7 separate regions of the Homo sapiens genome follow, and regions 2, 3, 4, 5, 6 and 7 are each linked to region 1. The links come from fine-mapping of genetic effects on gene expression. A gene starts in region 1. Each other region holds a variant in brackets. All regions are shown on one strand. Distances are between the middles of the regions. Region 1 holds the start of FARP2 (FERM, ARH/RhoGEF and pleckstrin domain protein 2). Region 2 overlaps HDLBP (high density lipoprotein binding protein). Region 3 overlaps HDLBP (high density lipoprotein binding protein). Region 4 overlaps FARP2 (FERM, ARH/RhoGEF and pleckstrin domain protein 2). Region 5 overlaps HDLBP (high density lipoprotein binding protein). Region 6 overlaps FARP2 (FERM, ARH/RhoGEF and pleckstrin domain protein 2). Region 7 overlaps FARP2 (FERM, ARH/RhoGEF and pleckstrin domain protein 2).

Evidence for each region. PIP is the estimated chance that this variant, and not a neighbour inherited with it, causes the effect. A credible set is the group of variants that fine-mapping cannot tell apart.
Region 2: its variant is the best candidate, but not a certain one, in a credible set for the expression of FARP2 in whole blood (INTERVAL, PIP 0.57).
Region 3: its variant is the best candidate, but not a certain one, in a credible set for the expression of FARP2 in monocytes after R848 (Quach 2016, PIP 0.81).
Region 4: its variant is the best candidate, but not a certain one, in a credible set for the expression of FARP2 in CD4 T cells (BLUEPRINT, PIP 0.55).
Region 5: its variant is the best candidate, but not a certain one, in a credible set for the expression of FARP2 in skeletal muscle (FUSION, PIP 0.58).
Region 6: its variant is the best candidate, but not a certain one, in a credible set for the expression of FARP2 in regulatory T cells (Schmiedel 2018, PIP 0.64).
Region 7: its variant is the best candidate, but not a certain one, in a credible set for the expression of FARP2 in whole blood (INTERVAL, PIP 0.74).

The regions. Positions count from the first base shown.
Region 1 is chr2:241,354,012-241,358,312 of GRCh38, forward strand. It overlaps FARP2 (FERM, ARH/RhoGEF and pleckstrin domain protein 2), which reads left to right and starts at 2,274. Exons shown (of 27, transcript NM_014808.4): 1 at 2,274-2,377. It overlaps SEPTIN2 (septin 2), which reads left to right. Exons shown (of 13, transcript NM_004404.5): 13 at 1-16. RefSeq lists a silencer at 2,062-2,611.
Region 2 is chr2:241,284,740-241,289,040 of GRCh38, forward strand. All of the region lies in intron 1 of HDLBP (high density lipoprotein binding protein), which reads right to left. Among named protein-coding and RNA genes, the nearest start is that of HDLBP-AS1, 15 kb to the left of the region's middle. The variant C/CT (reference allele first, on the strand shown) is at 2,681.
Region 3 is chr2:241,249,393-241,253,663 of GRCh38, forward strand. It overlaps HDLBP (high density lipoprotein binding protein), which reads right to left. Exons shown (of 28, transcript NM_005336.6): 10 at 4,001-4,105; 11 at 3,565-3,643; 12 at 449-588. Among named protein-coding and RNA genes, the nearest start is that of HDLBP-AS1, 21 kb to the right of the region's middle. RefSeq lists a silencer at 1,150-1,356. The variant A/C (reference allele first, on the strand shown) is at 2,256.
Region 4 is chr2:241,415,454-241,419,754 of GRCh38, forward strand. It overlaps FARP2 (FERM, ARH/RhoGEF and pleckstrin domain protein 2), which reads left to right. Exons shown (of 27, transcript NM_014808.4): 8 at 2,509-2,656. Among named protein-coding and RNA genes, the nearest start is that of MIR3133, 60 kb to the right of the region's middle. The variant G/A (reference allele first, on the strand shown) is at 2,019.
Region 5 is chr2:241,305,083-241,309,383 of GRCh38, forward strand. The region is part of intron 1 of HDLBP (high density lipoprotein binding protein); the gene reads right to left. Among named protein-coding and RNA genes, the nearest start is that of HDLBP, 8.4 kb to the right of the region's middle. The variant CA/C (reference allele first, on the strand shown) is at 1,889.
Region 6 is chr2:241,480,569-241,484,869 of GRCh38, forward strand. FARP2 (FERM, ARH/RhoGEF and pleckstrin domain protein 2) reads left to right here. Exons shown (of 27, transcript NM_014808.4): 20 at 2,897-2,965; 21 at 3,674-3,763. Among named protein-coding and RNA genes, the nearest start is that of MIR3133, 4.8 kb to the left of the region's middle. RefSeq lists enhancers at 2,475-2,975, 2,976-3,476. The variant G/A (reference allele first, on the strand shown) is at 1,883.
Region 7 is chr2:241,398,297-241,402,597 of GRCh38, forward strand. All of the region lies in intron 2 of FARP2 (FERM, ARH/RhoGEF and pleckstrin domain protein 2), which reads left to right. Among named protein-coding and RNA genes, the nearest start is that of FARP2, 44 kb to the left of the region's middle. The variant A/AAG (reference allele first, on the strand shown) is at 1,933.

The DNA.
Region 1 (4,301 bases):
TTGTTTAGATATTAAATGAGTATTTCTCTTGGTTATTTGCAAGGGAAAGTTGTGAGGTTTTCTGGGAAAATTCAAAGTCTTGACAACATCTTTGTATAAAATCAAGAAAAATTACTTGAATCAATAGTGTCAGTACTGGACAAGTTTGTACGTATTGGAGATCCAGCCCAAAAGAAAGCACAAAAGATTGGAAAGGAATTATTTACAGGTGATCAGAACATCTACTTAGAAAGTACAAGACATCTGGTGAAAATTAACACTAAGAAGTCAGTGATATCTATTTTCTAATTAGAAAATGTAGTGAGAAAAGAAATCGCATTGATAATAGCAACTACTAAATTACTGGAAATATAAGTGAATGATTGAAATATATCTAGGAAGAAATTTCTAACCTATAAATTTTCAAGAATAGGCTAAGGCGGCTCTGCCACTTGAGTAAAGGAAACTGGAAACCTGAATTGATCTGGGTGGCTGGACACCTACACTCCAAGGCCTCTAGCCTTCTTCCTGCCCACTGGACTGATCATCCCAGGACCACCTTGGGCCCCTTTTACCTTGCTATCAGTGTTTTCTGAGCTTCCTTATAGACAGACCCCTGGATACTGAAACTTGCTCTCTCTAGTTCCTCAGCTGACAGCTGCCACGCCTGCTGCCTTCCCTCCAGACTGCCAGCCTCAGGTCACCAGCACACACCCTGCATCCTACCAGGGGTCAGTACCACCCTCTGGCCAGGCTCTCACCTGCACTATCCCCACCCGGCCCTGCCCGTCTGCAGGCAGGGATCCTCTGTTCTGGGGTGTGTGCACCACTCTGGGCCTGGTGGTGTCATTGGGGGTTGGTTAAAGGAAAAGCCCCAGAGGTGGGTGGCACATGAGGGGAGCATCCCGCACAGCTGAGCCCAGTCTTGGTGTGCCTGGGTCTCAGACCCCATAGTTGTCTCAGGAGAAATGGAGGTTCCCCTGAGCCAGCATTTCTCCTGTCTGGGCTTCTGGGAAACGAAGGGTCAGGTTTCACTCTGGAATCCACAGCACCATAGGAGGAGTCTCTTAAGTGCCCGGGTGTTTCCTGAAGTTAATTATTCCCTCAACAGCCACATGGTGACAGTGGGTGACAGGGCCGGGCTAGGAGAGCACGATGGGTAGGGTCTTGAAGAACACATAGGAGTTCAATGAACTTCTCAAGAGAAGGGAAGTGTGCCACAGCAAGTCAGTCTTCCATTCTCGGGTGGGGGTCCCTAGGCCAGAGGAAGGCCGTCCTGGCCGCCACCACGGAGCAGCCTGTCTCAGCCTTAGCACAGCCTCGCGCGATCCTTCGATGATCCCCTTCGGTCCCTGTAGTCCCACGAGGGATGCAATGCGTTGGAGGAAGGAGGAGGCTGGCAGCCAGGGACTGAGCCAAAGGGTGCAAGGACAGCCGGCAAGGCCCGGGCCAAGACCTATCCCCGCCCAGCGAGCCAGGCCTCGCCCAGCACCTATCCGCGCCCAGCAAGCCTAGGCCTCGCCCAGCACCTATCCGCGCCCAGCAAGCCTAGGCCTCGCCCAGCACCTATCCGCGCCCAGCGAGCCTAGACCTCGCCCAAGACCTAGCCCCGCCCAGCGAGCCGACTCCCCGCCCAGGACCTAGCCCCGCCCAGCGAGCCGACTCCCCGCCCAGGACCTAGCCCCGCCCAGCGAGCCGACTCCCCGCCCAGGACCTAGCCCCGCCCAGCGAGCCGACTCCCCGCCCAGGACCTAGCCCCGCCCAGCGAGCCGACTCCCCGCCCAGGACCTAGCCCCGCCCAGCGAGCCGACTCCCCGCCCAGGACCTAGCCCCGCCCAGCGAGCCGACTCCCCGCCCAGGACCTAGCCCCGCCCAGCGAGCCGACTCCCCGCCCAGGACCTAGCCCCGCCCAGCGAGCCGACTCCCCGCCCAGGACCTAGCCCCGCCCAGCGAGCCGACTCCCCGCCCAGGACCTAGCCCCACCCAACGAGCCGACTCCCCGCCCAAGATCTAGCCCCGCCCAGCGAGCCTTGGCTTCGCCTAGGACATTGCCTCGCTCAGCAAGCCGACGCCCCGCCCAACGAGCCGAGCGCTGCACAGATTTATATCCTACGCAGCTGCCTGCCTGCTCCCGCCCCTTCTCCGTCCGTTCACCAATCAGAACTCGATCTTGCGCTTTCAGGCCGCGGGACGGGAAGGCTCCGCCCTGGCGCCCCGCAGGCCAATCGACTGCGCGTCCGCGTCGCGGGGGCGGGGTCAGGGCGGGGCGCGCTGCGCGGGGGCTGCCGGCGGGCAGTTGGGAGCAGGCGACGCCGACGCGAGTCTGGCGGCTGCTGCTTGCGACTGCGGAGGCCGGGCGAGGCCGGTGAGGACGCGGCGGGCGAGCGAGAGGCCGAGGGTGAGGACGTGAAGCGGCCTGGGCGCGTGGGGCAGGGGTGGGCCTCTCCGGGTGGGCGGCGAAGCCCGAGGCCCGAGGCGAGAGGCCCAGGCGGGGGGGGCGCTGAGGCCGCGGTCCACCAGAGATGGTCCCGCCCGGCCTCTGAAGGCCATCGTGAGGCGGCTGGAGCTCCTAGGCGGGTCCGGGTTAGAGGAGCGTCCGTCTGTAGGGAGCCTGCCGCGTGGGGGCAGGCGGGGCGGTGGGCCGGGGAGTGGCCCGCGTGGACTCCCGGGTTGAGGGGTGCCGCGTGGAGGAGGCCGGTGGGGCTGTAGACCGGGGAGTGTCCCGCGTGGACTCGCGGGTTGAGTTGTGCCCCGTGGAGGCCGGCAGGGCCGTGGGCCGGGGAGTGTCCCATCCCGGAAGGACACCCCAGAGTGGGCCATAGGGACCCGCAGGGTATGGGCCTGGAGGTGCCTGGTGGAGGCATTTTGAGCCGTTTGCCTTTTTAGCATTTCTTTAAATTGTATCTTAAAGGTGGGAATCAAGTGTTAGGTGTTAATATTTTTACTCCACTAAGGGCTAGAAATACTCATAAGCCAGTGGGTAGCCTTTGGGAAACCCATGAAAACTGGGGACCAGAATATGGCCCAGTACATTACACACCCGAATTACGGGCACCTTTTCCGTTTACGCTATGGCAGCAACCCCTGGCCTATCATGTGCCATTAATGGATGTGAAAAGCAGAAATTAGAACAAGGCATCATTGAAGGAAAGATTGTCAATACATAGTGTTAAAAAGGGATGGGCAAATTTAAAACCCAAGGCCAAATCTTTAAAGGGTGGTTTTTCTCTCTGGGTTTTTGTTTTTGTTTTGTTTCCGTGGGATATTTTTGTCTGGGCCACTGTGTAAATGTTTGATAACCCTGAGGTGGCAGTGGGTTAGCGTGTTGGTCTTGTGTAGACTGCCTTATAACAGGCGACACAGATTTTCTCAGTACCAGAGAGATGGGAGAGGACATTTGAGGTAGGGAAGCATGGAGTAACCTTTACTTGTAGGCCAAATATAATTTAAATTTTCTACATCTGCTTGTTGAAAGTTTTGTTTTGTTTTGTTTTTTGAGGTCCTTAAAGGTTTAGGAAGCACTTCATGCTCGTTATTTATTCAGTTTTCCAAAACTCTTCAGAGACATGACCAAGTTGCACAGCCCCGTTTTAAAGTAGAGGAAAGGGAGGTTGAGAGAGGTGGAATGACCAGTTTAGGGTCACACCTAGGGTACTTGCAAATACCATCTGTACTTCTCATGTGCCCTATCCTTGTTGCAGATTCTCATTAGGTGGTTCACTGTTAACAAACTAAATGCTGATGATGCAGTTTCCTGGACTGCAGACGTTTGCTGGCTTATTTACCTATAGGACTATCAGTCGTTAGTAAATTTCCAGGTTCCTTGTATACTAATTCCTTTCCCAAAGAGGAAGTTGATATAAGGTGTATTCATTTCTCTCTGCCTCAGGTTCCTTATTCAAAAAATGAGTTTAAAATTTACTTGGCCAGGCACAGTGGCTGTAATCCCAGCACTTTGGGAGGCCGAGGCAGGCAGATTGCATGAGCTCAGGGGTTCCAGACCAGCCTGCTCAACAGGGCGAAACCCCATCTCTACTAAAAATACAAAAATTAGCTGGGCTGGTGGCGCACGCCTGTAATCATAGCTACTTGAGAGGCTGAGGCACGAGAATCACTTGAACCCAGGAGGTGGAGGTTGCATTGAGCCAAGATTGTGCCACTGCACTTCATCCTGGGCGACAGAGCGAGACTCTGTCTCAAAAAAATAAAAAAATAAATAAAAAAAGCTGTGTTAACAAGATGCCTGGCACAAGGTAAGTGCTTAATAAATGTTAGCCATTATTATTATCAGGTGGACAAATAATCCGAGTAGAAAGTAGAAC
Region 2 (4,301 bases), 69 kb before region 1:
TTGCCAGTCACCCCAACATGTAGCAACCTCTGCTCTGATCAGTCAGCAGCCATCAACATCAAAGCGAGACCTTCCAGCAGCAAAAAGATTAAGACTTGCTGAAGGCTCAATGATCATGAGCATTTTTTAACCAATATTTTATTATTATTTTTTGAGATGGAGTCTCACTCAGTTGCCCAGACTGGAGTGCAGTGGCACAGTCTTGATCTTGGCTTACTGCAACCTCCACCTCCCGGGTTCAAGTGACTCTCCCGCCTCAGCCTCCCAAGTAGCTGGGATTACAGGTGTGCTCCGCCACACCCAGCTAATTTTCGTACTTTTAGTAGAGGCGGGGTTTCACCATGTTGGCCAGGCTGGTCTCGAACTCCTGACCTCAGGTGATCCACCCACCTTGGCCTCCCAATGTGCTGGATTACAGGCCTGAGCCACTGCGCCCAGCCTTAACCATTATTTTAAATTAAAGTATATACCATTGTTTTTCTAAACATGTTACAGCTTTTATATGCACTGGGAAACGTAAAACTCATGTGATGTGCTTTATTGGGATGTCAGGCTTTCTTGTGGTGGTATCACAAACCTGCAGTGTCTCTGCAGTGTGCCTGATGTGCACTGTAGCATTTTTGTAGAGTCAGAAGATTAAACATTTGCATTGGTTCAGTCCGGGACTGGGTAAACAAAGGGTGGCAGAACACAAAGCACTATCACTGACCTCCATAAACGACCTGATGAATGACCAAGTCTCCACCCCCACAGTAAAATATTAATTGATGTCATGAGCAGAGTGCCTTCTAGTGTGCCCTGAACACCGATCCCCACCAGTGATGATGTGTGCTTAGTAAGACTCAGTTTTACTTGCTCTCAAACCTGTTTATGCCAGTTTCACTAGTTAATGTAACTACATTTAGAAATAATTCAAAATAATGAAGGAGTGAAGAGAAATTTATCTATGGATATTAAATTTACCACACTGAAATTTCAAGAAAAACAAGTTGCCTTAAAAAAATTATGGCTGGACATGGTGACTCATGCCTATAATCCTAGCACTTTGGGAGGCCAAGGCAGAAGGATCACTTGAGGCCAAAAGTTTGAGACCAGCCTGGGCAACAAAGTGAGACCTCATTTCTTAAAAAAATAAAAAATAAAAACAATTAGCCTGTGCCTGTAATCCTAGTTACTCAGGAGACTGAGGCAGAAGGATCATTTGAACCCAATTTGAAGCTGCAGTGAGTTACAATCGTGCCACAGCACTCCAGCCTGGGAAAAAGAGCAAGACCTGTTTGTTTAAAAGAAAAAGTCAAATGGAGGAAAACCTTTAAAATCTCAGAGAATCTACACTGATTATGAGTTTCTTAAATTTTTGTTCCACTTAAATGAATGCTGAAAATCCTAGACGACATATTATCAATTTCATTTACATAAGAAGAGAGTATGTGGCCAGGCATGGTGGCTCATGCCTGTAATCCCAGCACTTTGGGAGGTTGAGGTGGGTAGATCGCTTGAGCCCAGGAGTTCAAAACCAACACAGGCAACATAGTCTGAAAGGAAAATAAATCTTGGGGCCCCCAAATCACTAAGTTAAAAGGAAAAGTCTAGCTGGGAACTGCTTAGGGCCAACGTGCTTCCCATTCTCTTCAAAGTCTCCCCTCTGTTCACTGAGATAAATGCGTATCTGACTGCCTCCTTTGGAGAGGCTCATCAGAAACTCCAAAGAATGCAACCATTTGTCTCTTACCTGCCTGTGACTTGGAAGTCCCCTCCCCACTTGGAGTCTTCCTGCCTTTGCTTCGAGCCATCCTGCCTCTCCAGACCGAACCAATGTTCGTCCTGTATATGCTGACTGATGTCTCATGTCTCCCTACAATGTATAAAGCCAGACTGTGCTCTGCCCACCTTGGGCACACGTCATCAGGACCTCCTGAGGCTGGGTCACGGGTGCGCGTCCTCACCCTTGGCAAAGTAAGCTTTCTAAATTAACTGAGACTTGTCAGATTTCCTGGGTTTACAATGGTGAAACCCTGTCTCTACCAAAAAATAAAAAATAAAAATAAAAATAAAAATTAGCCAGGCATGGTAGTATGCACCTGTAGTGCCAGTTACTCAGTGTGGAAGCTGAGGTGGGAGGATCACCTGAGCCCCAGGGGTTGAGCAGTGAGCCATGATGGCACCACTGCACTCCAGCCTGGACAACACAGCAAGACCCTGTTTCCAAAAAAAAAAAAAAAGAAAACATGTAGAATCCAGCCAGTCCCATTTCAAATAGGTCTTCACCCTGTATCAAATGACTGGTGATTAAATAAACCTCTGTGCCTCAAAACAGGTCAGTTAAGGGGGCTTTAACCATACACCCAGTGTCAGTGAACAAGAAGAGGCAGTTTGTTGTTGTTGTTTTGAGACAGAGTCTCACTCTACTGCCCAGGCTGGAGTGCAGTGGCGTGATCTTGGCTCACCGAAACCTCCGCCTCCTGGGTTCAAGCGATTCTCTTGCCTCAGCCTCCCGAGTAGCTGGGACTACAGGCGTGCGCCACCACACCTGGCTGATTTTTGTATTCTTAGTAGACACAGGGTTTCACATTGTTGGCCAGGCTGGTCTCAAACTTCTGACACCGTGATCCACCCGCCTGTCTCCCAAAGTGCTGGAATTACAGGCATAAGCCACCGCGCCCGGCCTATTTCTTTCTTT[C/CT]TTTTTTTTTTTTTTTTCTGAGACAGGGTCTTACTCTGTTGCCCAGGCTGGAGTGCAGCAGCACAATCGCAGCTCACTGCAACCTCTGCCTCCCAGGTTCAAGCGATTCTCCCACCTCAGCCTCCCAAGTAGCTGGACTACAGGTGTGCGCCACTATGCCTGGCTAATTTTTGTATATTTTTTTGTAGAGACAGGATTTTACCACATTGGCCAGGTTGGTGTTGAACTCCTGGCCTCAGTGATCTGCCTGCCTTGGCCTCCCAAAGTGCTGGGATTACAGGTGTGAGCCACTGCGCCTGGCCTGCAGCTATGTGTTACGTTGATATGTAACCAGTCGTGTTAAAAGATATACATGTTTGTACATGCATAAGACCTCTCTAGAAGGAAACTCAAGTCATTGAGAATAGCAAAAGGACAGGAAGTCCAGAGCCCAGTCCTCAACAAGCATCAACATGAACAGCTGGGTAAAAGATGGACTTGAAAAGACAATTCTGCTGTGAAGCTGTAGAATGTGAAGACGGGAGGGAAGACCATGAAAAATGGCACATATTCCTACACCACATACCCCCAAAGTGTGTTTTAATAGGAAACTATGGATGGACATATGCTAAGTGTTTGTGAGAGTTATCAGCAGAAGGGGAAAGCTCTGTATTATATGAGGCTCTTTACTTTTCAACAAAAATACCTCCACCTGGAGAGGGAAAAGAGGACACTTAAGTATCACCAGGTACTACAAATCAGTGAAAAACAGAGTCACAAAATTTATTTTCTCTGCTGTGCTATTCTCATTACAATTGCCACGTTATCTGCAAGACGTCTGAATTAAAATTTTTTTTTGTTAATTTCCTTTTGAGGAAGTGGTGATGACTTTACATGAACCTATTCAAGCCTTGGAAACTGAGAACAAGATACATAAGAGCTGTCTTTACCATGTGGAGAGCATTTAAAGGGGGACTGAGTTCTGTCCAGTTGCCTGCACAACTAAGAACAATTCTGAAGACACATTTCATCTCAACATGAAGAAAAGGATCACTAAGAGTGAGCATGCTTTCCTGAATTAGCACCTAGGAAAAAAAATGGGCAGAGCTTATTCCCACTGTGAAGTGTACTCTCCACTGGGTGATCATTTAACTTACATGACTCCTTAGGGTCTCCTCCATCTTAAGTTTCTTTGACTCACTGAAGAAACAAACCACTGCTTCTAGGTGGAAATGCATCCGTATGACCCATGGGTTTACTGATGTCTCTAACTGCCATGGTAACACTAGTCTGCCACCCTGAGCCGCTGAAAGGTGTTTCATGGCAGCTCCTGCACACACACATACTCCTCACCAGGGCTTGAAGCCCACGCAGGCCCCCACCCCAACTGTAATGGTGTTCCTGGGAAGGGGATGGGAACAGAATGGCTGTAGGAAGGGCCATTCCCCTTTAGTCCTGCAATTTAAAAATCCCTTCCATCTCCTCACTATAAATCTCATTAAACTACAAGAAACAAAATAATTTGAAGTTTGACCCAGGGCAACAATTTACACTTGATGATTTTTTCCTTCCTACAATTTACATAGGAAAGTTCTATGAGCTAGAATTAGCTTAGCTCATGTTTATAAAGAACTCTGTTATG
Region 3 (4,271 bases), 100 kb before region 1:
TATGAAACGTCGGGGAGCCCAGAGCAGTGCAGTGCTTCTGCCAGGTGGTAGAGAGCAACAGCCCCCACTTCAGGTTTGCAGTGATCCTCGAGTCTGGCCTTACATGAGAACCACCTGGGATGCCTTTGAGAATCCAGAAATGTCTGTCACAATCTCTGGAGATGGTACCCAGGCATCTGGGCACCCAGGGTGTGGCCAAGGCCAAGACGCTGCCACACAGTCTCTGTGCCCTTCTAGCACAGCACACAGCCATGGAGAACAAGACGTGCAGGTGACCTGGGGAGGATAAAGGAAATGTGGCCCCAGGGAGTCCAATCCGGTTCCAGTGCAACGTGGGATTTGTCGACTTCCATTCTCTAAGGCCGCACACCACAACACGCTACTCCTTAGAGGGGGCCAAGAGACGCAAGGCCAGTGCCTTTCTAGAGGGCCCAGCCATGGCACTTACCATGCGAGATGCAAGCTCCAGCAGCTCTCGCTTGGCCTGCTGCACGCCCTGTGGGTCCCCCTCGATGCGGATCAAATTGCTCTTCTCACTGTCAGGAGGGATGCGCACGGACACCTTGTACTGGTCTTTGATTCTGTTTACTTAGGAACACAAAAGGAAACACATTTAGGACACAGACCAACAACATTCTGCCAATGACATAACTGGGCAGGACAGCGCTAAAGCGCTAAATAACCTTATCTGTGATTCCCATCACCAAAAACGATGCTTAGCTTCCCAAACAAAAATCTCCATTGTCTAGAATGGGGGCCAGTTATGATCTTCACCTGGATCACAAGGGTTCTGGAGGACAGGCTCTCAGCCTGGACCAGAAGCTGGAAATGCCCCGAGACCTTCAAATAACTGACGGTTGGGGCCACTCAGTCTGGGATTTAGCTCGTCTGGGGTATTGGCCAGGGCTTCAGAATAGTTGAAGGATTCCAGGTGTTTCTAATGTGCAGTAAGTTTGGGAACTACTATTCTCAAGTTAAAAAAACCACACACATTAACTCCACACAAAAGCACTCACTGACGCCTAAGAGCCTTGTGGGGCCCATGCTGCTGCCCAGAGACCCCATCTACTGTTGGCTCAGATTCACACTGAGCACTTCACTGTGTCTGCAAGACAAGTGCTGTTGCAAACCCTCCTGCTGTCAACCTCTCTGGATAGAACCCAGTACCCCCAAGTTAAGAGTTCCAGGCCCCCCAAACTCTGGAGAAGCCGTATCATCAGGAAACAAGGCAGGAATCTTGCCCACTGTGCAGTAAAGGGAAGCCCAGCTTGCTGGAAGGACCACGAGGAGGGCTTTTTGTGCGTCCATCCCAAACACATGCACACGCAGAGGCAGCAACGAGGCGATGCACTGAGGGGGGAACATGGACATGCAGCTGTGCCAGGTGAAGCAACACAAGACAAGAGAAGCAGAGGACATGGGAGCTGGGCAGCAGGTTTTTTTAGATTACGAAAGAAGACAAGAGTTAGGAACTGCATGAGAAGAAAACAGAACAGACATGACTGACTAAGCTACATTCTGCAATTTCTCGGGGGCAGAAACCAGAAATTAATGTTAGATTTACACTACTGTACTTCCATATATATGTGTTTTGAGACAGGGTCTTGCTCTGTCACCCAGGCTAAAATGCAGTGGCACGATACAATCACAGCTCACTGCAGCCTTGACTTCCTGGGCTCAAGTGATATTCCTGCCTCAGCCTCCAGAGCAGCGGGGACCACAGGCCTGGCTAAATTTTTCTTTTTTGTAGAGACAGGGGTCTCACTATGTTGCCCAGGCTCATCTCGAACTCCTGGGCTCAAGTGATCCTCCTGCCTTGGTCTCCCAAAATGCTGGGATTACAGGCAAGAGCCACCGTGTCAGGCCTAAACAAACGCTACAGTTAACCAAAACCAAAACAAAACCGTAAAAGCAAGTTTATGGTGTATGTGTGGTTCAAGTAGTGCGCAAAAAGGTCACTTTGTGCCTACAGACTCTCGTCGCTGTCACGTAAAATGCCCACAAAACATAAGACTGACACCAGAGAGCTCACCATTGCACAGGCCACAGCACAGCTGCCAAGGCTATGTTTACTCATAACAAAAACGGATACACGGACGTCAGTCATGTTATGCAGGTCGGTGTCCCACTACCTGGGAAAGGCTCCTTCATCCACTGAACTATCCAGGAATGGAGGACGTGCTTGCCTTCTCACCTTCCACCCAAAGGTAACACACGCGACGTGTGCACTTGTTTTCAGAACACGCGAGTGTGTG[A/C]GTATAGCCATACAGTTAAACAAAGAGGTGTAAAAAAACATTCTTGGTTGGGCACAGTGGCTCATGCCTGTAATCCCAGCACTTTGGGAGGCCGAGGTGGGCAGATCAACTAAGGTCAGCAGTTTGACACCAGCCTAGACAACATGGTGAAATTCCATCTCTACTAAAAATACAAAAAAATTAGCTGGGTGTGGTGGTGCACGCCTGTAATCCCAGCTACTTGGGAGGCTGAGGCAGGAGAATCGCTTGAACCTGGGAGGTGGACGTTGCAGTGAACTGAGATCACGCCACTGCACTCCAGCCTGGTGACAGAGCGAGACTCCGTCCCAAAAAACAAACAAACAACACAAAACATCCTTGGACCTGCAGCAGAATGCCCACGACACACTTCTAACAGCATCCTGTAACTGTGCTACACCTGCAACCTGGCACAGGTGAGGCACACAGCGACCTTGGCCCACATGACATACTTCCAACAGTGTCCTGTAACTGTGCTACACCTACAACCTGGCACAGGTGAGGCATATAGCGACCTTGGCTGACATATCACTGCCTCTTCAACAGAATCCCCCTGCTGGGTGTGGTGGCTCACACTTTTAATCCCAGCACCTTGGGAGGCCAAGGTGGGCAGATCACCTGAGCCCAGGAATTTGAGACAAGCCTGGCCAACATGGTGAAACCCCGTCTCTTCTAAAAATACAAAAATTAATTGGCTGTGGTGGCATGCACCTGTAGTCCCAGCTACTCAGGAGGCTGAAGCTGGAGAATTGCTTGAGCCCGGTAGGCAGAGGTTGTAGTGAGCTGAGATCACGCCACTGCACTCCAGCCTGGGTGACAGAGTGAGACCCTGTCTCAAAAAAGTATCCCTCCCCATGTTGTTTTACTTGGGCACAAATCTAGAATGTTTTTACTCTTCAGTGAGTTCCAGATCAGCAGTTTCCACGTTCAGAAGGCATGAGTACTACCAACACTGATTGGCTAACCTAGCAGGTCTGACGGAAATATAGAGAATGCTGCCCTTGGGCATGCCTTCAACATGGCCTCTGTGGGTTATTTGGGGAGGGCTTAGATGGATTTCCAAAAGTGACAATTCACCCACTGGCCAAGCAGCTCTAATCCAACCACTGCACCAAAGGGAAAAGGAAAAGTGGCCTCTTCCAGCAGGCAGGAGGATGTAAAGTCTGTAACTCCCATTACAGGCAGCAATGGGCCTGGACTGTCTGCACGGACGTCACAGTTCTCACAGCTGACACCCCCCACAAGGGTCTCAGGGCACACTGGCCCCACCGCAACAGACAGCCTCACTCACTGTTGGCACCGCTCTTCCCAATGAGGTGCCTGTGGAACTTGTGGTCGATGTTGATCTCCACATAGTCCATCCGGTTAATCTGCAGGAGGAGCACAGAGGTCCATGGATGCGCCTGGTTACTTGGCCAATGAGCTGAACCAAAACCCAGCAGTCTCCACGGTTGCCTTTTCTGACCACTCAGCTGTCAGGAATTGTTGGAGACTGCCCCTGCATCTCCCCTGAAAGATGCCTTCTTCAAGATGAAGTTTCCTCCACCCACGATTATTCCAGGACTTCGACCAGCTTCTGGTTGTTTCAGAACCTATTACTCACCCAGCTAGGATGCCCTGGGTGTCTGTGCCCGGACATGTGGGATGTCATCGAGAGATGACCGCCCATGCCCAACTCAGAGCCTCCCTTGTCACCAGCACACACAACATTCCAAGGGGTACCTTACCAAATCTTTGACCATGCCTTCTATCTGTTCCTGGGCCACATTGACATCCTCTGTAGGGCCCTCCAGGGTGATCTTGTCTTCGCCCTCTGTGAACTCGATGTGAACCTACCACACCAAAACCAAAGAGATAGCTAAAACAGAATGGCACAGCTGCAGCCCCTGAGCTCCCAGTGGGAGCTCTCTTCGGAGCGGCTTCTGATCCCAAACTGCTTCACATAGATGTGAGGGAGGGAGGGACATATCCACAGCCATCAAACAAAGTTGAAAGGGA
Region 4 (4,301 bases), 61 kb after region 1:
GGAAGGGAGAATTGGGCATTGTGCTGCGAACTGTCCAACCTGAAGGACAGTCCCTAGTGGATGGGTGGGTTTGGGATGCTGGGGAGAGTGTTGTCAGCACGTAGGCTGGGCTAACCTGTGCAGTGGGTGAAATCAGCTAGGCAGAGGGCAGATACAGGTCAGGAAGGGAGAAGAGCCCAGGATGAACCCCTGAAGAACTGACATTTGAGAGGCTGAGTGCAGGAGGAGGCACCCACAAGAGCCTTTAGCAGCCAGAAGCATGGAAGGGCACAGGTGCCAAGAGAGCATGTTTTAGGATAGTGGCCACAGCCTCTTGTGTGGAGACTACAGGCCTGGGGAGGTAGGCACAGGAGCAGGTTTCTGAGCTTGGCAGTGTGGCAGTGTATCGCCTTCAGCAGCTTCAGTGAGTGGTGAGGGTGAATTCTAGATTCAAGTACACTGAAAGTGCAGTGAGGAGGCAGTGACAACATCTTTGGGCACTTATGTCGAGAAGCCTGCCTGTGGAAGAACAAAGAACTGGACCCTCAGGGTAGTTCTGTGTGTGTGTGTGTGTGTGTGTGTGTGTGTGTGTGTGTGTGTGTCTGGGTGTGTTCTGTGTATACATGTGTGGCTGTGTGGTCGTGTGTGCATGTATATGTGTTCCTATGCATGCATTGTGTGTGTTTCTGTGTGTGGCTCATATGTTCATGTGTGTTGATGTGTGTTCCTGTGTACATTGTATACTGTGGTTATGTGTACTTGCACATGTTCTTGTGCCTGTGTCTCTGCATGTGTGTGTCCTTACATGTGCACATGTATCCGCTAAAAACCCTAGAAAGCCGGTACGAGAAGGGTGAGCCATGTGGTCTGCTTCATACGGGAATACAGTTGAACTCTTGCCGAATAAGCCCGGAAGCAGGAAGCTCTGCTCTACGTTGTAGGCCTTCACTGTGTTAATTTGAGACTGTGTCTGTCACAGTCACCACAGCTTCGTTGCACATCTTATTTCTTTTGATAATCCTTCAGGTTTTTTTTTAAAGACAATATTGTACCTTTATTTTAATTATTATACATTTCTTACATTGTCTTATGATTCTGATGGTTCTTCAGTGATCCACTGAAAACACCTTTATAATCACTGAATAGGATATTAAAGAAGTGTTTTTCTTGACTTTATCACATTGCTTTTGGATCTTTGAAACTGGAGAGAAAAGTCGGGCACAGTGGCTCATGCCTGTAATCCCAACACTTTGAGAGGCCAACAAGTTTGAGTCCAGGAGTTCAAGACACCCTGGGCAACATGACAAAACCCTGTCTCTACAAACAATTAGCCAAGTGTGGTGGTGCGTGCCTGTGGTCTCAGCTACTCAGGAGACTGAGGCGAAAGGATCGCTTGAGCCTGGGAGGCAGAGCTTGCAGTGAGCCAAGATTATGCCACTACACTCCAGCCTGGGCGACAGAGTGAGACCCTGTCTCTAAACGAATGAGCGAGTGAGTGGGTGAGTGAGTGAGTGAGTGAGAAAACGGGTTTATAAGACACAAGTGTTTCAGATAGTAAAAAATATTTTTTAAGATGAAAAGGAGATGGCCGGGCGCAGTGGCTCTCGCCTGTAATCCCAGCACTTTGAGAAGCCAAGGTGGGCGGATCACCTGAGGTCAGGAGTTTGAGACCAGCCCGGCCAACATGGCAAACCCCGTCTCTACTAAAAATACAAAAAGCTGGGCATGGTAGCGTGCACCTGTCGTCCCAGCTACTCAGGAGGCTGAGGCAGGAGAATCCGCTTGAACCTGGGAGGCAGAGGTTGCAGTGAGCCAAGATTGCACCATTTCACTCCAGCCTGAGCAGCAGAGTGAGACTCCATCAAAAAAAAAAAAAGAAAAGAAAAGAAATACCATAGATAACACTACTATCCCGTCACACTCATTTTCTTTCTTTTTCATTTCATTTTATTATTAGTATTATTATTGTTAGAGATGGAGTCTCGCTCTGTCACCCAGGCTGAAGTGCAGTGGCATGATCTCAGCTCACTGCAACCTCC[G/A]CCACCACGCCTGGCTAATTTTTGTATTTTTAGCAGAGACAGGGTTTCGCCATGTTGTCCAGGCTGGTCTCAAACTCTTGACCTCAGGTGATCCACCCGCCTCTGCCTCCCAAGGTGCTGGGATTACAGGCGTCAGCCACTGTGCCCGGCCCTCTGTGGTGTTTCTTCTGATTAAAATTTGTCTCTGCCAGTAGTATTTGTGTATAACCTTGTCACTATGGAGCAGATGTAAGGCTGAGTAGCTAGTGTATGCAAAGAAAGTGTTCTACCCGTTACAAAGTAGTTACAGAATAGAAGAAAACTGAGGATGTCTTTGGCCTGCACGTGTGGTATGCTGTTTTTGTAGTGGGTAAACACAGACAGTGAACCATCTGCCCTCTAAACACACAAAGCCTTCATTGTTGGTTTTCCTGATCGCTTCTATAATGCATTTTGGCTCTTTCAGAAATCAAGTGTTTGTAGTGTATGATTCTACCATTTTTTATTACAGGGGCCAGACACCTGCTGAGTCGGATTTCCAGGTGCTCGAAATTGCTCGAAAGTTGGAAATGTACGGCATCAGATTTCACATGGCTTCTGACAGGGAAGGAACCAAGATTCAACTGGCAGTTTCCCACATGGGTGTACTCGTGTTCCAGGTAGGCCAGTGGGGAAGGGAGGGGTGAGAACAGGGCAGGGGAGGTTTTCTGCAACCTGGTGGGGTTTGTTCTTATAGATGTTAGTAAATATTTGTCCTGATGAGTACGGGCCTCGATTTGGAAGAGGGGCTTTGCATATCATCCAATCCAACCTCTTACTCAGTGGGAAAATTAATCTTTTGTCCTTCTCTGACACACGTGTGACTGTCCTCCATGTCATGGAGCCCACTGCTTCCTGGGACTGCCTCCCGCCTCCTTGGATTCCCCACTGCCTCCTGCCCCCCAGGGCTGCCCACTGCCTCTGGGACTTCGCATTCCCTCCTGGGATTCGGCCTACCCCCTTAGGATCCTAAACCACAACCCTGTTTTTTTTCCAGTGGAGCAGTCTCTGTGCTGTGGATGTGATCTGGGCTGGACTGTGAGCGCTTTAGAGTGGGTTACAGTAATCATTTCAGTAAACAAACTAGAATAGAATAGAAAATATCAGAGGGATTGCTTGTGATAAGAGTCAGTGTTGTCTTCTGAAGTGTTTGTATTAGTTGTGATGCATAGGTAAATAATTACATAAATGGTGGGCATGGCCTGCTCACTTCCATTTGTGGTTATGTGTGTGTATGCTGGGGTTTGTGATGTCCAAGAAGCTTAAGTGTGACTGCTAGTGCCGACTAGAAGGAGCTTTTCTCCTTATTCAGGCCCTTTGCATATCTGAAGAAAGCTCTTGCGGGGGCTCCCCAAGTCCCCTCGCACCCAGGCTAAATATGTCCAACTTGTCTGGGCCCCTCCTTTTGGGAGCACTCCAGTCACTGGCCCTTGTAAAATTTTGCACCTCTGATAGACTACGGTAATCCTGAAAAGGTCTCCTCAATGCTGAATATTGTGGGAATTGTCACTATTGCAGTCTGGGAGCCCATTGCCTGCATGAGCTGCTGTTTCTTTGTGGGCTCTTTTAACCTGTGACTATCAAAAAGAGCTTGGTCTGATTCAGGCCTCCCTCATCAAGCCATGTTTATTATTGTTTTCTTTTCCTTATTTTTCTTAACCTAGCCATCAAGTTTCAATTTCCTGTCAGAAAAAAAATTAATTTTGAATTTAGAGTATTATGTTACATTTCATACTAAATGTGATTAGAGAGCAATAAAAATCCATGATAGAGACCAGCCTTAGCAATCCATGCCTTCAGGTGGAGGGTCTGAGCATCCCCTGCCTACACCTGCTGATGAGTGTTCCCCCATTGCACAGAGATGAAAACCTCATATCCAAACTGAGCCATTGCCACATTTCCAGAAAAAAACAAATAATACAACCTAAAGAAGTTGTAAAAGCAAGGGATTAGAAACTTCAGTTTGAAGATAGCAGACTGAATATATGTATTTATTTTTATTCCCTCAAAACCCTGAACACAATGACAGTTGAAGGAATTTTTTAAACATTTAAATCCGTAAGAACAAAGAATGGGAAAACAGCCCACGAAAGATGAGGATAGCAGCAATGTTTGGAAGCTGGGAAATGAAACAGGGAGTGGGACCTGACTTTGCAGAGTAGGGAAGGCTGGAATCTCACAGCCTTCAGCGGCAAAGTCACAGTGCAAGCCAACATGTTCCCAGGAGCCCCAGAAAGGGCTCACAGTTCATGCTTATGAGAAATA
Region 5 (4,301 bases), 49 kb before region 1:
TAACTAAACGACTCCTGCAAGTGGCTTCACTCTACCAGGCTCTACTTTTTCATTTTTGAGACGGAGTCTCGCTCTGTCTCTCCCAGGCTAGAGTGCAGTGGCGCGATCTTGGCTCACTGCAGCCTCCAACTCCTGGGTTAAAGTTATCTTCCTGTCTCAGCCTGCTGAGTAGCTGCGACTACAGGCATGTGTCACTACACCCGGCTAATTCTGTATTTTTAGTAGAGATGGGGTTTCACCATGTTGGACAGGCTGGTCTCGAACTCCTGACCTCAGGTGATCCACCCGCCTCAGCCTCCCAAAGTGCTGGGATTACAGGCGTGAACCACCGGACCTGGCCAGGCTCTACTCTTTCCAACCAAAAAAACGGGGCCTGTGATGGCTATACCCTAGAGCCCTTTCAAGGACTGACCCTTTACAGCAGGGCTCCTCAACCTCAGCGCTGCTGACATTTTGAGTCGAATACTTCTGTTGCGGGGGCTGCCCTGTGTACCACAGGATGTAAGCATCTCTGGCCACAACCACCAGATGATTGTAGGTCACGACAACCACAAAGGTCTCTGGACACTGCCAGATGTGCCCTGGGTAACAAAAATCACCCTGGTGATAACCACTGCTAGAAATAAATAGCGTGATGACTAGTATATAGGAAGCAATGAATACAAAGTTGTTTATTTGTTTTTTTTTTTTTTTTTGAGATGGAGTCTCGCTCTGTCGCCCAGGCTGGAGTGCAGTGGCGTGATCTCGGCTCACTGCAAAGTTCCGCCTCCCGGGTTCACGCCATTCTCCTGCCTCAGCCTCCCGAGTAGCTGGGACTACAGGCATCCGCCACCATGCTCAACTAATTTTTTGTATTTTTAGTAGAGACGGGGTCTCACCGTGTTAGCCAGGATGGTCTCGATCTCCTGACCTCGTGATCCACCCACCTCAGCCTCCCAAAGTGCTGGGATGACAGGTGTGAGTCACCGCGCCCGGCCAAAAAGTTTTAATAGGTGAGGATTTTTATATCATTCATGGATTCTTAAACGTGATCACAAAATCAGATGTTTTATGAGTGACTACCAGCTCCAAGTGTTATCCTTCCAAACTTGAAAACTGAATTTCTGATAAACTGAGTTACCCAGGTTCTGAGGCATCTGTTTAAAAAAAAAAATGAAAAATGAAAAACCCACTCAGAGATTCAGCTTTTTTTTTTTGAGATGGAGTCTTGTTCTTGTTGCCCTGGCTGGAGTGCAATGGCGTGATCTCGGCTCACTGCAACCTCTGCCTCCCAGGTTCAGGCAATTCTCCTGCCTCAGCCTCCCACAGCTGGGATTACAGGCATGAGCCACCACGCCCGGCTAGTTTTGTATTTTTAGTAGAGACGGGGCTTCTCCATGTTGGTCAGGCCAGTCTCGAACTCCTGACCTCAGGTGATCTGCCCGCCTCAGCCTCCCAAAGTGCTGGGACTACAGGCGTGAGCCACTGCGCCTGGCCTCAGCTTTCTTATTTTTAAAAGAAAGGAGCTGAAATCCTACAGGTCAAAAAGTACCCCAAGTCAGGCTGGGAGCAGTGGCTCATGCCTATTATCACAGCACTTCATTGGGAGGCCGAGGCTGGCAGATCATTTGAGGTCAGGAATTCGAGACCAGCCTGGCCAACACGGCAAAACCCTATCTCTACTATTGTGCATGCCTGTAGTCCCAGCTACTCAGGAGGCTGAGGCAGGAGAATTGCTTGAACCCGGGAGGCGGAAGTTGCAGTGAGCGGAGATCATGCTGTCATACTCCAGCCTGGGTGACAGGGAGAGACTCTGTCTCAATAAATTAAAAAAAAAAAAAAAAGTATCCCAAGTCCCCAAGTCATAAGGCTGATAAGAACAGGTCCAGGGAGTAGCTCTGAACCTATT[CA/C]AAAAAAAAAAAAAAACGAGGAAAAGCCCAAAATTGAAGTGAGGTCTCCTGACTCCCAGTACAGTCAAAGACACCATCCTTTCATTTTTGTTTCTTTTTTGGGGGGCGGGGGGGACAGGGGGGCAGTGTCATCCTAACCTGGATAAACATCTCAACTCTTTGTTGAGTCAGGGAGAAATAATCAATATCCTGCCTTCTGTACCTAAGACAGCAAGTACTGCTGCAGGTCTCACAAGGTCTACCTCAAGAACTTCTGAGACTACAACAGAGGGAAAAGGCAAGCCCTAGAGTGGATCTGAAAAACGCTTATTTGAAAGAATTCATCGAGACTGCTCACGCCACTTGCTGACTGTTGACTTTGACATCAGCCACTTCTTACCTCTTCCTGCCCCAGGAGAGACCTGCGGTCATAGCACTGGGGTCTCTGGGATACAGCTAAGCCTCCTGAGAGACTGGAATGGGATGGGTAGGGGCTACACGAATAATGGTTTAATTAACATTGACAGTATTAATAGATTAATACTGCAGTGGGCTTGCTGTAGTGATGGTCTACCAAGGAACTTGATTTTTTAGCTTTAAAAATATTCTAAAAGATAACTCAACAAAACAATGTAAAAACTGGCAACCCCCCCATGAGGCTTTACCAAAAAATATATTCTAAACTGTATCTTCAAAACTGTAATTTTAATTATACTTTAATTATAATTTTAATACATGATTTAAATAAAAATAGGATCTTACATGCATTCTTTCACCATCTGCTACACTTATTTTCATTTGAAAAGACACCATGGCCATCTTTCCGAGTACCAAATACAAATTTACCTCATTTGTTAACAACTACATGTTGAGTGGAGTAAACATACCTTAATAAATCCCCTACTGATAGGACCCTTGAACTAATTTTTTTTTTTTTTTGCGATTATAAACAATGCTGGAAAGAACATCCTCTGCTCACTTGGGCCTCTACCCCCACAGGATAAATTGAATTGGAAATGGAATTATATGATGACAGGCAATGCATTGATAGATATTGCCAAGGTAAAACTGCCCACCTCCCAAAGAGTTTAACTAGTTACACTCACAACACCTGATTACAGAATACCTGTCCTCTTCTCCTTTGAGGACAACTAAAATGATCATGTTTATTCTTTTTTCCAGCCTGATGTGCGGGAAATACGATTTTAATGGCAACTCTGATCATCAGTGAGACAGCAATCTTGTTGAGCTTATTGACCTTTTGAATTTCTGTACTGTGAAGATCAAACTAATCACAACCAATCCGTCGTCCACCTTTCTACCAGTGTTTCAGCAACGCTTGTGAGACAAAGCAAAATCCACATCTGGGCAACAGAGCAGTAGGAATGAACAGAAAGAATTATAAATTTAAGTGAAACTCAAGTTGTATGCCAAAAATAACATTCCTAAAGGGCACCCAGGCAAAAGTGATGAGAAAATACTATTAAAAAGGACATCTTTTGCCTCAATTAGTCACACAGTAGACAACGTAAGCTGATGACCTGAGACACCTCAGCCTGCCAAAGTTCCGTTTCATTCACAAACATTAACCTACTCTGCTTTAAGAGAAGGGCTCCCCCAAAAGGTAATTGTGCTTGCAGAAAAGCGTCAAAGTGTATACTGTTTTGCGGGGTATGCAGACCTGGGTAGATGGTAGACTGAGGCTGACTGACAAGGCCAGGTTAGGGAAGCAGTGAAGTAGCTGAAGGCACAAACTGGAGCCAAACCACTAACTCTAGCCTTTGCCTCAGGGTCTACCTCGACCTGTGATAACAACAATACTTGCCTCCTACAGGTGACAGGAAAAGTAAGAAATGTCGTGAATGGTGTGGCCCATGGTCACTTCACCACGATCCACCACCAGTACTGGGTCACTCTGCTCCAGCTCTCCAAAGGCATCAAGATCCGACTGCTAGGAGCCCCGGCTTCTTCCCTGACCTGCCCGTCTCCTACACCCTCTGGTCCTGCTCCACACTGGTCTAATAACTGGTGTTCCACATTCCTCTAACGTGCACAACACAGTCCTGCCCCCGTGCTTTTCACCTCCTGTCCATTCCTCTTATAACGCTCTTCCCCAGATCGCTGCCCATGGCTTGTTTGCTCATCTCAAGTTTGAATCAACTGTCGCTCAATCAGCAAGGCCTCCCCACTATGCCAAACTGCCACTGTGTCCCCCACTCCACTCCCCTCGATACTTTATTTTCCTCCTTTCTTCTTGTCCACATTGGACATACTGCATATCTGCTGGTCTGCTGACTGCCTGACACCGCTTACCAAAACGTGACCTCCGTGAAAGTGCAGGAGAACACACTTGCATTTTCCTTACTGTGTCCCACTTCCTGGAACAGTGTCTCCAGCACGAGCCGTTGTCAGATCAATACATTTACACTACTT
Region 6 (4,301 bases), 130 kb after region 1:
ACTAAAATTTATTCTAAGGGGATATTTATACTTTTATACTTTTTTAGGTATGGTATTTTATCAGCTTATAGTTGAATGCCTAAGTTTCCCCTGAAAATAGCAAACAAAACTGTGTATTTATGAAAAAAAAGAAAGGAAGAAAGAAAGAAAGCCTAACCCAGGGTATGAAGATTTACCCTTCTGTTTCTTTTCTTCTAATAGTTTTATGTTTTACCTCTTCCATTTAAATCTTTGATCCATTTTGAGTTAGTTTTTGTGTATAGTGGAAGGTAGGAGTCCAACTTCATTCTTTTGCATGTGGAGGTCCAGTTTTCCCGGCAGCATTGATTGAACTGTCTGCCATGTAACCCTTGTAGAAGTTCAATGGGGGCTGGGCATAGTGGCTCAAGCCTATAGTCCCAGCACTTTGGGAGGCCACGGCAGAAGGATCACTTGAGGCCAGGAGATTGAGACTAGCCTGGGCAACATACTGATACCTTGTCTCTACCAAAAAAAAAAAAAAAAAAAAAAAAATTCCTGGCATGGTGGCACACACCTGTGGTCCCAGCTACCCAGGAGGCTGAGGCAAGTGGATCACTTGAGCCCAGGAGGTCAAGGCTAGAGTGAACCGTGATCGTACCACTGCACTCCAGCCTAGGCAACAGAGTGAAAACAAAAACAAAAAAATAAATGGACTGTAAACATATGGATTTATTTCTGGACTCTTGATTCTATCCCATGGTCTATATGTCCATTGGGCCAGTTACTTTCTGTCACTAGTACTTTTTGCTTTGAACTCAATACTCTCAACATAAAAAATTGTTTTAAAAATTACATGGAGATGTTTCCTGTCTCTGCACACACATGTTCATTGAAGCATGTGTATGAATCATGTTCTGTGTTAGCCTTGTTAGAAGAAGGTATTGAAAATGTGGAACTGCAAGCTTGGAGAAATGAATTAGCCTGTAATATACAGGAAACCTTCCCCACTTTGGGAGTCTGGGCTTTGATCAGGTGCTAGGACCACCACTCTTTCATTTCTCTCCTTGGCTGCATAGCTTTGAGCTGTTGCTGCTGGCTGGGAACTCCTGGAAGTAGGGCTCATGTTACATAGTGTTATTTCTCCTAGTAACCTCTGTGCAGGGTCTTATAGATGGTGGCCCAGGGAACTGTCACTGGGTCTTATAGATGGTGGCCCAGGGAACTGTCAATGAAAAGACAGTTGAGAGTAGCTACATAGGCAAAGGTGTAGGCTCTTGAGCCATGCATCAAACTCAGGCTCTCCACACTTCCCATGTGGCCTGGGCAGGCTGCGCCCCCTCTCTGAGGCAGGAGGTCTTGAGGATGAACAGGGAATCTATGTCAGCTGCTCAGCCCTGGGCCTTGCATGAAGTAGATGCTGTGCAAATTCAAATAATAATTTGTTATTATTAGTCAAAATCTCTAAAGTCATGTCTGGATAGCCCAGAATTTCTTGTCTTCCTGAGTTAAATATGTGTGTCAGTCAACAGACAGAAACCATGCCAGTTATTTGAGCAGAGGATGTAATAGCAAGGATTGTTAACCAGGTATAAAGTTGATGAGGTGCCAAAGGGTAAAAAGAACTGTGAAGTGTCAGGGAGGTGGCAGAACTGTGAGCCACAGTTACTACCCTAGGGCTGGGGAACAAATTTGACAGCTTGGTCAAAGGCCCACGGTGCTGAGCCTCACAGCTGGCAGCGGGGCCAGTGCATGGTGGAGAAGGCGCCCCGTGGGTCTGGGACGCACATCCTGTGAGGGAGCTCTGGAGAGGGGGCTGCTGCTTAGCCAGTGCTGGGGTCTCTGAGGGTGATGCTGCTACCTGTGGCTGGAAGGAACGGCCACTCCCAGGGCCAAGCAATTGCCAGCAGCTCACAGGGACCTC[G/A]GCGTGCGGTCTCCAGGGCTCCCTGTCACGCCCCTGTGGCCTCTCAGAGTAGGGCTAGGAGGCAGATGTGGAGTGAGAGCCACAAGCTTAGTTACCGGCCCCATCCAGTTAACGCAAATGCATCCATATGACCACCTTCTTCATTGTGTGGGGTGGACGTTTCTGTTTGGGCTGGTTTTTCATCCTGCGTTTCTGTGAGGATTATCTGTGTAGTGTGCTCCTCCTTCTGCCTTCACGCAGTATGTTGGGACTGCTCATACTAGGAGGCCCCTAGCACATTCTCCGGACACCTGCTGCTCCTCCTGTTTGTCTGAAAGGAACAGATGGTGGAAGGGCTCCAGAGCAGTCCAGGTTAGGAATCTGAGGGGCTCCCAGGACTCTCGCTTACCCTATCTGCGCAGGTGTCTGATACTGGCAGGATTCTTTTTTCTTATCTAACGCCCTGTGGTGGACGAGGTGGTGCTAATTTGAATACTTAGGAGAACCCTCCTTTCCTCCTCCCATTCTCGAACCTGCTCTTGGTGCTAATTTGAATACTCGGGAGAACCCTCCTTTCCTCCTCCCATTCTCGAACCTGCTCCTGGTGCTAATTTGAATACTTAGGAGAACCCTCCTTTCCTCCTCCCATTCTCGAACCTGCTCCTGTCCAATGTTTTCAAAGCTGATCTCAGATGACATCTTTGTGGCTGAACCTTCCAGAAGCTTCTCCTCAGCAAGAACAATACTCCGGGCTCTACCTCTTGGTTGTATCAGGGCTCCAGGGCTCCTAGCCCAGAGCAGGTGCTCAGTAGATGGTTTGAGGACTGAATTTGTTGGCACCAAGACAGGACCTGGTGACCAAGGGCACTGCTGAGGGTAGAGGAGCCCCATTGGGAGGCTCCACTAGAGGACCCTCATTGGGAGGAGCCAGAGGAGCACAAGCGGCCACAAGGCTATTCCTGACCCTCAGCCCGGCTAGTGCATCCGCCAGCTGCCCTCAGCCCGCTGAAAGGGGACTCTGTCTCTGTCTTTCAGGAGTTCATCCGTGAGGGCTGCCTTCACAAGCTCACCAAGAAGGGCCTGCAGCAGAGGATGTTTTTTCTGGTAGGTTCTCTCCCCACTCAAGCTGTGCTTCCCCCCGAGGGGGATGGGCAGCAGTTCTGTTAGGGACATCGCCTGCAGCGGCAGCCCATTGGCCTCTGGGTAGTTTAGCACTTGGAGGCTTTGGTCCAGGTGGGTAGCGTTGGAGTCAGACAGGGCCAGGGGAGGGTCACAGAGTGGGAAGAAGCAGAAAACAGCTTCCCCACCCACCCCAGGGCCAGCCTCCTTCTTCATTCCAGGTTCTGAGCACCTGACTATGGGACAAACAGAAGCCAAAAGATTGTAAAGTCCACATACATGTGGCTGCAAGAAGGTGCTACTGATGGCCCAATGGCCAGTCGGGACAGTTTCACTGTTGGCTCAGAAGCCCCTCCCAGCATGTCCTTGTTCCTACCAGTTAGTGGGTTCCAGCCTGAAACATGTGGATGAGGAGGTAACTGAGTCAGCACCAGCCAGAATTCCTTACTGCCTCCAGCTTCTCAGCCAAGCTAGCTGGGAGCTGACCCAGCAGATGCACTGGTTCCTGTGGCCCTTTCCTGCCTCTGGTCAAAAACGACCAAATGAATGAATAAAAGTCCCCTTTCTGCCAAAAATCTCCAGCAAGCTGCACAGATCTGATGTCCACATGATGAGCAGCCAGAGTCCAAGTTGGTCTGACTATTAAGACACTTGTTTGTGAAGTTCATGGATGTAAAGCTTGCTGCTTCTCAGTTCTCAGATATGTTGCTGTACACAAGCAAAGGAGTTGCAGGGACCAGCCACTTCCGGATCCGGGGCCTCCTTCCCCTCCAAGGCATGCTGGTGAGTGGTCTTGCACCCTGCCTGGGATTTCCACGTGGTGCTGGGCTGGGCCCCACCTACCTCTCTCCTGCAGAGGCGAATCCTTACCCAGCAACACTGAGAGCAGCACCTGCTGAGTATTTGGCCGCACTGGGAGCAGCACCTGCTGGGCATTTCTTGTTGGTTGTTTCTGACCCTCATGGTCATTGTTGTTATTGATGCTCAAACTGCCCTGTCTCTAGTCCATGGTTCCCTTCTAGGGAAACCTGGACTCAGCCTGTGGTCTCTGTCAGCACCTGGCAGGACAAGGCCTGCTCCCCGCAAGCTTAGAGTCAGCCTCTGCAGCAGCATCTTCCTCAGGCTGTGCCACCTGTGTGACATCCATGCCAGCCCTCTGTCCCATGTAGGCACATGCCTGGGATGGGAAGAGAAATTCCTCATTTTAGCATGATCCAGTTCATCAACTTTGTCCTTTGTGGTTAGTGCTTTTTGTGTTCAATAGAAATACTGTTCTCAGGTCATGGGGAGACTTTCATGCAGCTCTAGAGGCTATGTCCAC
Region 7 (4,301 bases), 44 kb after region 1:
AAAGTAGCCAGTGTTTTGATCTTTAGCATTATAAATTAGTTTTGCCAGATCTTCAGGTTCATTTAAGTATGTATATATTTATCAGGTACATGAATACAATATGTACTATGTGAAAATTATCAGTGTTGTTGGTATAGCTGTGGTTTGCTTGTTTGTTCGTTGCTGGGTAGTATTCCATTGTAAAAACAAATCACTGTTTATCCATTCTGCTGTTTAATTGACATTTTGGTAGTTTCCAGTTTTGAGCTCCTATGAGTAAAGCTTCTGTGAACATTCTTTTTTTTTTTTTTTGAGACAGAGTCTTGCTTTGTCTCCCAGGCTGGAGTGCAGTGGTGCAATCTTGGCTCACTGCAACCTCTGCCTCCCAGGTTCAGGCAACTCTCCTGCCTCAGCCTCCCAAGTAGCTGGGATTACAGGCTGTGCCACCACGCCCGGCTAATTTTTGTATTTTTAATAGAGATGGGGTTTCACCATGTTGATCAGGCTGGTCTTGAACTCCTGACCTCAGGTGATCTGCCTGCCTCGGCTTCCCAAAGTGCTAGGATTACAGGCGTGAGCCACCGCATCCAACCAGACATTCTTGAATTTGTCTTTAGGTCTCTATAAACAGATATTTCTGTTGGGTTTATACCCCGGACTGGAATTGCTAGGTTATAGGGTATACTTCTGTATACCTTTAGTAGATACTGTCAGTTTTCCAAAGAGATAATACAAATTTACAGTGTTTGAGACTCCAGATGTTCTACTTTTCTTGCCAACATTAGGATTATCCATTTTTATATTCTCAGCTATTCTGGTGAGGGTCTAGTGGTATCTTATTGTGGTTTTAGTGTGCATTTCCTTGATGTAATATTGTCCAACTTTTCTTGTTGTTTATTGGACATTTGAATATCCTCTTTTGTGAAGTGCCTATTTAAGTCTTTCGGCCCATTTGTCATTAATTGGGTTGTCTGGTTTTTCCTTATGATTTGTAGATCTTTATATATGTTGACTACAAGACCTTTGTTGGGTTTGTTTGTTTGTTTTTGAGACGGAGTCTAGCTCTCTCGCACAGGCTGGAGTGCAGTGGCATGATCCCAGCTTACTGCAACCTCCACTCCCAGGTTCAAGCAATTCTCCTGTCTCAGCCTCCCAAGTAGCTGGAACTACAGGCACACGCCGCCACACCCGGCTAATTTTTGTGTTTTTAGTAGAGAGTAGTGAAAGTTTTGTATTTTTAGTCAGGCTGATCTCAAACTCCTGACCTCACATGATCCATCTGCCTCGGCCTCCCAAAGTGCTGGGATTACAGGCATGAGCCACCACACCCAGCCTCTTTGTTGGGTTTTTGTATTGCAACTATCTTCTATTTTGTGGCTTGCCTTTTTCCTATCTTAACAGTGTCTTTTGATATACAGAAGGTTGTAATATTCAGGTAGTCGATATCAGTCTTTTGGGGGTGGGGGAGCTAGTGTTTTTTGTGTCCTGTTTGAGAAATATTTGCCTACCCCAAGCTTTATTGTTGTGCCTTTCCGTGATTCATATTGAATTAATTTTGTGCATGGTGTGAGGTTGGAGTCAGTGCTTATTTTCACCTGTATGGATATGCAGTTTCCCTGGCACCATTCATGAAAAGATCATCCTCCCTGTACTGAAGGTTAAACACACATACATATGTTTGTTTGTGTGTATATATACAAATACCCATATAACTGTGAATTTTTGTGCCCGTATTTACAAACCCTGTCCTGGGTGTTGGACATTGCTGGTTAACAGGTGCCTTGTGAATGTGCTTGCACCTGCGTGGTTAGTGTCTATCGCCTTCATTAGTGTAGTCAGGCAGGGCTCCTGGAGCACACTCTGGCTGCACTACTCTAGGCAGTGCAGGGGCTCAGGTAGGACGGGGAACCCTGACCTCCCCATTGACTCACAGGGGCAGCCAGGTAGTTGAAA[A/AAG]AGGGTACAGCTAAGAGAATTTCATATTCTCTGTGCCACCTGAAGTGCACACTCAAGCTCCCACAACAGCCGTCAGAATCAGGAGCAGTGGTGGACAGTCCGGGAATCTGGCCGTGTGTGGTGCCTCTCCTGTGAGCCAGAGCTGGAGCTACTAGGATGGAGAAGGTGCAGTCCTTGCCCTTTAAACTTGCCATCTGGTAGGAGGAACACACCCAAACAAATAAACGGGTCACAGTCAGCAGCAATGCCAAAGGGCAGTTCTAGAGTCGAGTACCAACTGGTGTGTAATTAGGTAGAATTGACTGGATGAAGAGAGACCACAAATGAGCTGACTTTTTATCAGATTCTCAAAGCATTCACTGGAGACTGATAGAAGGGAAGTGAGAGAGAATTCTTCTCTAAGGGAATAGCCTGGGCATGTCATTATCCCTGCACTCAGGTGAAGCCAGGTAGTGTGAGGCTGTATCAGGGTGAGGGACTTGGTTGTATGTAGCCTCCCCACCCCAAGTACTGACTCAGGGAGAGTCATGAGGAGGACTGTCCTGGTGATCCTGGATGGAAGTGTGGACAGACAGTATGGCTTTGAAAGAACTTCATAGGGTTGTTTGGGCCCACAGTGAGTTAGTGCAGCATACTCCACGGTTCATAATTTCTGACTAGTTAACAGTCTCAGAAACCCTGGTCTGGCTGCATTCTCCCCATCCTGATGGACCACATGTGGAGCGCTGGCATGCCTCCTCCCAGATGCCCACAGGCATCAGAGTAAGTTCTTACTGGAGAAGGCCCTAAGAGATTATGTCAGAGCAAGTTCAACACAGATTTGCCCTTTTGTTCTTTAGAAATTGTATGTACAATGTCAGGTCACTTCGTAGCTCACCTTTCCATTTTAAAGAGGCGTTCCTTGTACTTTCATTCCGTATGCTGCTTTGTTACAATGGATTTGCAAGGTTTTATTTCTTACACAGTGAGAATCTGGTGACTAAACCTCAAGGGCCATAATGTCCTTTGGAACAATGAGATTTGCCTCCCCCAGTTTGCACATATTGTTTATTAATTGTGAAGATGATATATGCCTATTGGTTAAAAATTGAGATGTTATAGAAGTGAAGAAGTAAGAATGCTCTTGCCCCACCTCCACCTCTGCTTAGTTCTTTAATGATGGTTACTTTTAAAGATTTAGTGAACAGCTTTCCAAACTTATTTTTATTACATATAAATGTATCCATGGGGCATATGTGTTTTTAATAAAATGGAATCGTTTTATACATTGTATAGAAATGGAGGCCTTTTTTTCTTTTTCCTTTTAATTTTTATCTTTTGTAGAGACAGGGTCTCTGTTGTGCCGTCTGATCTTGAACTCCAGGCCTCAAGCAATCCTCCTCCCTCAGGTTGCTGAGTTCACAGGCGTGAGCTACCATGCCCAGAGTCCCTTTTATTTTTTTCTTAATTAAACTATGTGTTGTAGACTTTTTTCAATGATAACACAATAGAGAGTTCTGTGTTCTTTTTAAGGGTTGCATAGTTGTCCATTATGGATATGTCATTATTTATTTTACCAATTCTTTTTTTTTTTGAGACGGAGTTTCGCTCGTCGCCCAGGCTGGAGTGCAATGGCGCAATCTTGGCTCACGGCTTACTGCAACATCCGCCTCCCGGGTTCAAGCTATTCTCCCGCCTCAGCCTCCTGAGTATCTGGGATTACAGGCGTGCACCACCATACCCGGCCAATTTTTGTATTTTTAGTAGAGACAAGGTTTTGCCATGTTGGCTAGGCTGGTCTCGAACTCCTGAGCTCAGGTGATCCACCCACCTCAGCCTCCCAAAGTGCTAGGATTACAGGCATGAACCACCGTGCCCGGCCTATTTTACCAATTCTTTACTGAATTTGTCCTTAACATGTTTAGGTCTGTACAGTTGTATGAAAGTATCTGTAGGAAAAAGTTCTAGAAGTAGAATTACTGGGCAAAGGTAAATGCACACTTTAAATTTTCAAAGGTGTTTTCAAATTATCAGGTCATATGAACTTACATTCTTCCCAGCACTCTGTGAAAGTGGCTGTTTCTCACAGACACACCAATATTGGCATCATCATTCTAACCCTCTTTGATGGGTGAAAAATATCTTACTGTTTTATTATTAAAGAAATTTAGTATCTTTTTAAATGCATAGTAGCCATTTGTACATCTTCATCTAATAAGAGCAAAATAAAACATTGTAACTTTTTCCATTGTGATTCTAGATAACTTTGTTAAATGTGTTTCTGTTCAGATGTTTTTCACTTTTATTTAAGTCAAGTCTGTCCATCTTTCCTTTTTGCTATGCTTAGGAAGACTTTACCTTTCCCAAGATTATAGAGATTCTTCTCTGTT